3 separate regions of the Homo sapiens genome follow, and all the other regions are linked to region 3. Evidence: fine-mapped expression QTL. A gene starts in region 3. Each other region holds a variant in brackets. All regions are shown on one strand. Distances are from middle to middle.

Region 1 (2,770 bases), 32 kb before region 3:
AAGTTTGTTAGCTTTTTTTGCTGACAAAGTGCCAAGATGCAGAAAGGACACTCCATACCCCTCATTTCTACAAATGTACTTAATGGTTGGGTTCACCTTCAGGCTATACAGAAACAGCATGGCCATCACCAGTGGGGGAGAACCCAATACCTGCCATGTCATTTGGCATGTCTTTTTTTTGTTTGTTTGGAGACAGAGTCTTGCTCTGTCGCCCAGGCTGGAGTGCAATGGCGCGATCCCAGCTCACTGCAACCACTGCCTACTGGGTCCAAGGAATTCTCGTGTCTCAGCCTCCCAAGCAGCTGGGATTACAGGAGCGTGCCACCACACTCGGCTAATTTTTTGTATTTTTAGTAGAGACGAGGTTTCACCATGTTGGCCAGGCTGGTCTCGAACTCCTGACTCAAGTGATCTGCCCACCTTGGCCTCCCAAAGTGCTGGGATTACAGGTGTGAGCCACCATGCCTGGCCTTGTTTTTCTTTGAGGCAGGGTTTCACAGGCTGGAGTGCAGGGGCACAATCTTAGCTTACTGCAATCTCCGCCTCCCGGGTTCAAGCGATTTTTGTGCCTCAGCCACCCAAGTAGCTGGGATTACAGGCGCCTGCCACCATGCCTGGCTAATTTTTGTATTTTTAGTAGAGACAGGGTTTTGCCATGTTGGCCAGGCTGGTCTTGAACTCCTGGCCTCAAGTGATCCACCCACCTCAGCCTCCCAAAGTGCTGGGATTACAGGCGTGAGCCACCCCGCCCAGCCTGGCATAGATCAATTATAATGCATGACCCTAGAGAATCAAGCATCATCTTGTGAAATGCAAGGCTTGTCTTGGGCAGCTGCTTATCTAGAGGGTTGCCATGTCACTGGTTAGTTCTAAACTACCCAAACGGTTTAGAATGATTTACAAAAAGAGAGGAATACTACATGAGAACCTAACTACACCCCTAATCCAAAAGCCTTTCTATGACTAGGGAACAAAAAACCCATCCCAAATTCCCTGGGTCTCTACTGTCAACTATAAGCTGATTACACAGATCGTACTTCAGGCATATGTAAGTGTATGCACAAGAAGAACTTGAAAGCATGCCAAGCTCCAGAGTGCACCCAGTGGACACTACTTTAATATGTGAGATGCTCCAGGACCAATATTCTATCTAGAAACACCTAAAGTAGTAAAAAATCTATCCCAGCACTTTGGGAGGCCGAGGCTGGCGGATCACGAGGTCAGGAGATCGAGACCATCCCG[G/A]CTAAAACGGTGAAACCCCGTCTCTACTAAAAATACAAAAAATTAGCTGGGCGTAGTGGCGGGCGCCTGTAGTCCCAGCTACTTGGGAGGCTGAGGCAGGAGAATGGCGTGAACCCGGGAGGCGGAGCTTGCAGTGAGCCGAGATCCCGCCACTGCACTCCAGACTGGGCGACAGAGCGAGACTCCGTCTCAAAAAAAAAAAAAAAAAAAAAAAAATCTTACTTTAGAAAGATATGTCAAGAATTAATATCCCACTTAACATTCTCTTCTTTTGGTATACATTATATAATAAAAGAAAACCTCTGCCTGCTTCTTCAAAATTAGAATTCCCAAAAGAGTACTTTTAGTGGATCTTTCTCCATCTCACACTTTGTTTTCTTCAATGTAGAAATAATCAAAGTCTAAATACAAAATGTTAATATTAATATTTGCAAGAAGCACTGATTTTCTACTGTTGTATCCCATTAAAAAAAAAAAAACAGTAAAGCCTAGTTCATGAGCACCTTCATTTAATAGCTAATTGCTGGATTTGATTGGATAAAGTTTTCTTTAATGGATGATAAGTTTTCATAAGGAAATAGAATTTGAGAGGTAGGATGCTAACAACTGTTCACTTTGTTGCTTTTGTAAGCATGTTCAAATTTTTAATCTTACCTCAGCCATGATATTTTTGAGCTGCTGAATACAAAGAAATTTAGCTCACCAAATACTTGCATTGGCTTTCAAAATGTTTATGGCAGCCTCTGCAGCTCTATGTTTCGCCAGCTTCTTACTTGTACCTTCACCTGAATTAAGATTTAAAAAAAGAAGTCTTTATCTCCCACAAAAATGTGCAGCTTACAAAGATGTTTTCAATACACAAAACAAAGTCACTATAGATTTTACATACACATACTAGGTAATAAAAATATGTACGTTATATACTGTACATAAAAATATGTACATGTTATATACTACATGGTTATATACTGTAATAAAATATTCACCATGTGAAAAAATTTTAAAAAATAACTTTTTAAAGTTCTATATAATTCTATGCATACCTGCATAAAAATCCTTATTTCTACATTATATATGTTTATTATATAACATGGTAATAAAGTAGACCGTGTCACACCTCTGAAGAAATGCAGATTAGTATTTTACTCTTCCTTTATTCCTGGAGGGGAAATTCTTCTGCAGCAAGAAGTTTCTTTTAAAGGAACCATTTACAGCAGAATTGTTTGATAGCAAAATGTGCATAATTTTATTCTGACAGCCTGTCCTATAACGTATCAAACTGCTTTGCTAGGCTGAGCAGTCATGATTATGTGTTGGGTACAACAGGAAAGAGTTTTATGGAATAAGGTGACAGCTTGTTATGTATCTTCTGGACGGTCTGTATCTTCTGCATGGGTAGCTAAGTTGGGACTGGGGATAAGACTGATGTCTAATTTCAGTAAGCAATCACAATGGCAAATGATAAATTCCATCTTTTTCCTTTTAAGTTCAAACTCCCATACCCTCATGGAATAAGTTTCAAGTGTGG
Region 2 (2,770 bases), 20 kb after region 3:
AGGCTGGAGTGCAGTGGCGCAATCTCAGCTCACTGCAAGCTCCGCCTCCTGGGTTCATGCCATTCTCCTGCCTCAGCCTCCTGAGCAGATGGGACCACAGGCGCCTGCCACCATGCCCAGCTAATTTTTTGTATTTTTAGTAGAGACGGGGTTTCACCATGTTAGCCAGGATGGTCTCGATCTCCTGACCTCGTGATCTGCCCGCCTTAGTCTTCCAAAGTGTTGGGATTACAGGCGTGAGACACTGCGCCTGGCCCATTTTATGTATTTTTTAATACCATCTTACAGGACTGTGGTGTGGTGTTGAGTAAAACATAGTTTGACAATGTTGCTTTTTAGGACAATTGTAGATATGCTATAAACTGTTAATTAACAAGTATGTGTGAACAAAGAAACCAGTGTTTTGAGATGGATGTGTAGTGCTGTGTTCCTGAGGTTGATAGACAAAGGGTACACTTTTTTTTTTTAAGCTGTACTTTTTAGAGTCAAATGCAGTAAAACACCTCAGAGTTGCCTTGCTTCTGCATTGAACTTCTCAGGAAATCCCTTATGTTACAAATGCTCTGTAGTCCAGAGAAGTCAATGCGTATTTTACATATAAGAAACTAAAATAATTATTAGTTCTAGAGACAAATAGCATGGAAAGTAAGGTCAGACAATCTTCATGTTTTTTTTTTAAATAACATTGTTTATTTATTTATATGAAAAACTTACATTTATTTATATGAAAAATAAAGCTGAAAATTTGAGTATTCCAAAACAATTTAATCTGATCTTTGTAAGTGCTTTAATCTGATCTTTATAAGCACTTTATATAGTTAATCTCAATGAATTCATCTTAGAGTAAACTTGCATTTAACTTTATTTCAAGTTGTCATAAAAGTTCAGACAACCATCACTGGACCTACAGATTGAGTGATTATTATAGTGGGGATGTCCTTGGGTTAGTAAGCCTAAAGGAAGTAATTTCTGTTAAAGGAGATGTTAGTGGCCATTTGCATCTTAATGTCAATCTTATCAGATGTTCCCAGACTACAAACTGGGTGGGTCATATCTCTTAGCATTTCAACTGGTATTTCTCAGAGCAACTAGTGGCTCATGTTCCAAATATAGAAGGCATTTGCATAACATCAATGTTAGACCTGGGCTTGTTAGACTCTTGGGCTCATGTATACAAAAGCAACCACCCTAAACCTTTAGTATAATCTTTGTTTTTCTGCTACCATGTTAAACTTTGAAATAATCAGTTTTACTTGGCTGCCTCCCTTTATATTTTGATGGAGTAGTTGGATCTTCCAAATTATGTTTAGTATTTATCATATTTTTTAAATGTTCTGCTTAATTAGGTATTCTTTATTTTTTTAAATATATGTTTTGGAAATCCACTGAGACTTAGGGTTCTTCTTCTGAGTTCTTTAAAGTCTTGAATTATTAATGCTGTTTTCCATGAAAACCACACTTTAGAACATTTGTATATCAGCTACCTAAATAATTAATGATAAAGAGAAGCTTTGCTGCCAGACTCTACTACTGTCCTTTAAAAAAGAGATATTTATTAGAATATTTTGTGGCTTGCTAGATACTCCTTTTTTATCACATTTATATCTTATTTATAGTTATATACCCTGTTTTTTATATTTGTATACACACACATATATATGTATTATGTATAAAATTTGGTTTT[C/T]ACTTTTGAAAAAAGAATCCAGCATGTTTTTGGTGTGTGTTGAAAAAGATTCCAATTAATGGTTATTAGGGAGAAAGCTTGATGTTGTACTAATTATGTTGCTTGAGTCTGTGAAAGATTAAATTTTTTTTTGCCAGTTATCTTTTTCTCTGAGTAAATTTATGTTTATTATGATAATAGTAAATTAGAGCTGCATGATTCTACTTGACATATGGATTATGCTAATTTTTTTTTTTTTTTCCAAAATTTCTAGATGAAGCGTTCTGTCAGCCACCCTGGTTCTTGCAGTTCAGAGAGGTAAAAGAACCTTTTCTTCTGACTAAGTTCTCTCAAATTATATCCATCTAGGGAAGTTCTTTGGGCCTTTAACAAGTGGTGTGGAATGTAAACTCTGTATGGGTTAGGTCTGGTTCAAAACCAGCATTTTATCTCTCAGTATTTATCTCCTAGTATTTAGTATAAGGGCCTGGCCTCAGTAGGTAGTCAGTAAAGAAAAAAATGAATGAATTAACCAGCAAGGTAAGCACGTTGCCAGCCATTTTACCTTTTTTAGATGTTTGAAATGCAGTCATATATTGAAGAATGACTTTTCCATCAATGATAGACTGCATATGTGACAGTGGCCTCATAAGATTATAATACCATATTTTTACTGTACTTTTTCCATGTTTAGGTATGTTTAGATACACAAATACCATTGTTACAGTCACCCACAACATTCAGTACAGTAACATGCAGTAGAAGTTTGTAGCCTAAGAACAATAGGCTATACCACATAGCCTACATGTGTAGTAGGCTATACTAGCTAGTTTTGTGTAAGCACGCTCTGTGATGTTTGCACAGTGACAGAATCACCTAGCGATGGATTTCTCAGAATGCATCCTTGTCATTAAGAGACGCATGACTGTATATCAAGTGATGGTTAGACAGAAGTACATTTTTGATGTGTTGAGACTCCACAGCTAGGGCTCATTTTACCTCAGCTGTTTATAGCATCATCTATTCATGCTGAGCTGTTGTTTCATTAAGAGAGAAAGATCTTGCTGAAGAGAGAAAACCACTTGATATTTTAAAGTACATATTCAT
Region 3 (2,770 bases):
GAAGTATGATTTGCCCAAAGTTAATCATTAACAGCCATCTCATTTTTTAAAATTGTTATCTTTACAAAAACTATTCAACAGTTAACTTTTTAATGGGTCTCCAGCCCCTAACTAGGTGCATGGCTTGTACAAAGAACTCATTTAACTCCCTGGGTTTGTTGTAAAAAAATGATAGGGCAGTTTTAGCCTCAAAAAGTCATTTTAATAGTAATTTAAAATGGTATATTTTCTTATTAAATTCTAATGATATAATTTATTAAATTCTTATTAAATTATAAAATTGTATAAATTCTTATTAAATTTCTCTATTTTATTCTAAATGGATGGAACTGTTTTTCCCAGTCCTATCTTTACAGGGTAAAGAAAAGATTCTCCCTCTGAGTAATAAGCCATCAATTAAATCAGAGTAGGCACCAGGTGGAATGAGGGAGCAGGGCCCACCAGAAGTCACCAGGGAAGTAACTGTTTTTCTTGATAGAAAGTGGCCACAACCTATAAAAATCGTGCTTCTGAAGGCCAGAATTAAATCTCTTTATTCCATGTATTCCTCCGTAAAGACTCAATACTTCTGGCAAGGGAAAAATGTGAACATCCTTATAGGCAGAACCTTGATTTAATTCTGGAGGTCCCAAGGGTAATGGTGGTGGTTGATGTGTGTGTGGATGTATCGTATTTTTGATAATTTATTGCCACAACATTTTCAATACTTTAAATAAAAATATTCAGTTTATTAGAGAAACACTGCCATATAATGTGATTTTTTTTAATGAATAAAGGGCTCAACTTTTACCGTTAAAAAATAAAACCCCAACCAACCAACCAATGAGGCTTCCGCTTGGTGGAGGCAGGCAAGATTTTGTGCAACTGGACGCACGGGCAGCTCGCAGCATTTCCTACCTGCAGTAGAATTTCGAGCCGTCTTTAGCCAGGTAGCCGTCATAATGGGCATTTAGTAGGTCTCCCTTCTTGCTTGTCTTAGAGCAGTTTTCTGGACGATGCAAAACTTCTATTTTCACTTCTTCGGTGCTCTCCTCTTTCTTTTGTCTCTGAGCAGTAAAAAGGCCCCACAGATAAAAGAAAACAATGAATCTGAATAAGAAATGCATGGTTTTTGGCATCGGCTCCAGCAGAACACTGCTCTCCCTCCCGCGTGTCACTCGCGCCCCGTGGATGTCCCGCGGCCGAGTTCCGACGCGTGGCAGGCGTTGTCCTGCGTCACAAAGGGCCGGGGCGGGGCCATAGATGCGGCCCCGCCCTCTCATGGCCCCAACCCCTCCGCCTCCCGCAGCGGGCTCAGCGCGGTTAACGCTGTTTCTAGGCCCTCGGGCTGGCTGTCCTCAGTCTTTAAGATCGCAACGCACACTCGCTCCGCTTCTTCTCGCTAAACCCGCGTATTTTACAGCAGGTTTCCTCAGGGTTCGGTGACAACATTCGCATTTTCTAAAATGAAACTGGCATAAGACGAAATAAACAGCCTGGGATGTCGTAGAGTCAGGGAATATGGTTGTCATTTCTGGAAGCAAAAGGCTTCTAAGACCCCTAGGGAACGAGCAGATAGATACTGGGGGGAGGGAGAGGCATGCTGGAAAAGGAGCGTAAAAAATAGGCTGGCGGTGGCTTTCTGGGTGCTTCGGAGGTGTCCTTGAAGCGCATTCTCAGGTCGGAATCTTGCATTCAGAGGTTCCAGGCTGAGTCGCACAACCTGAAGGCCAGCCCGATGCAACGAAACTGCGGTACCGCAACTCCTCTGCCTGGCTGCAGGCGTTTCCGAGAGCCGACCTCCACAATTCAGCATCCTCCGCTGGCTTGCATTTCTTTTCCCCGCCACTCGGGGCCGCCCTTGATTCGAGGGCCTCTGGTAGTGCGGGGAATGTTCTTTTGACTTTTTTGTACCATCCCATGGGATACGTAATTGTCCACATCAGTCAAGAAAACTTGAGTATTGGGCATGTTGTCCCAATCTCACAGCTAATACGCAGCAGGGATTTGGTCAAATCTGTGTGACAACACCACTTCACCACCAATTTTAGTATGAAAACCTTTAAAATACACAGAAAGTTGAATTCTACAGTAAACTCTCCTACACCCACCATCTGGATCCTGTCATTGAACTATATTATATTTATTACATATCCATCCATCACTCTATCCATCCATCAATTCGCCTTGTTTCCAAGTGAATACCCAAAGACTACCCAAACCAGAAAACCAGCAAAGGCCTTCTGCATTCGCCTGGATTAAGTTCTGGGAGTAGAGGTGCTATTCTACCTCGGTGATGCGAAGAAAAGCCGCAGCACTGAGCCTGATTGATGTGCTTTGCTTAAAGTTTGCAAAATTCCATAAACCTGAAAATTACTGTCGATTATGCAAGATGACAATTGCGTCCAAGCAGGAGTTTCAAAAATCATAAAAGCTAGGGGGAAGTCCCCATTTCTAGACTAAAATTCCGAAGTCGAGTTCCATGTTTTATATTCTAAATAAAATTGTGGCTATCCAAGGTTATCGGCGTGATGACAGTTCCTTGGGGGCCCTCGCCATTCCTTGTCAGAGGACCCCGTCTGCTGCACATTGCCTTCCTAGGAGATAATTTCAGACCCCTTGAATATGAGGAAAATACGAAGCAAACAGAAATAGGAAGGCTTTTATGTATTTTTGAAGAAAAAACAGGATTTTATGTAAAATAAAAACAGGATTTCATGAAGAAACAGGATATTATGTATTTCTGAAGAAAACCCAGGAAAACCCGAGAGAACTAAGTGCCCGCGGGATG

Direction of the effects. Positions count from the first base shown, and alleles are read on the strand shown. Sizes are in standard deviations (SD) of each study's normalised expression. Not every link is listed here.
For the expression in left ventricle of the gene that starts at base 1,219 in region 3, A is the high allele of the variant in region 1 and G is the other (small effect, 0.34 SD a copy in GTEx).

Evidence for each region. PIP is the estimated chance that this variant, and not a neighbour inherited with it, causes the effect. A credible set is the group of variants that fine-mapping cannot tell apart.
Region 1: its variant is the best candidate, but not a certain one, in a credible set for the expression of FKBP7 in left ventricle (GTEx, PIP 0.77).
Region 2: its variant is the best candidate, but not a certain one, in a credible set for the expression of FKBP7 in tibial artery (GTEx, PIP 0.84).

The regions. Positions count from the first base shown.
Region 1 is chr2:178,445,560-178,448,329 of GRCh38, forward strand. It overlaps PRKRA (protein activator of interferon induced protein kinase EIF2AK2), which reads right to left. Exons shown (of 8, transcript NM_003690.5): 3 at 1,946-2,027. Among named protein-coding and RNA genes, the nearest start is that of PRKRA, 4.2 kb to the right of the region's middle. The variant G/A (reference allele first, on the strand shown) is at 1,243.
Region 2 is chr2:178,497,274-178,500,043 of GRCh38, forward strand. It overlaps PLEKHA3 (pleckstrin homology domain containing A3), which reads left to right. Exons shown (of 8, transcript NM_019091.4): 6 at 1,938-1,981. Among named protein-coding and RNA genes, the nearest start is that of PLEKHA3, 18 kb to the left of the region's middle. The variant C/T (reference allele first, on the strand shown) is at 1,685.
Region 3 is chr2:178,477,382-178,480,151 of GRCh38, forward strand. FKBP7 (FKBP prolyl isomerase 7) reads right to left here and starts at 1,219. Exons shown (of 4, transcript NM_181342.3): 1 at 898-1,219. The coding sequence starts at 1,118.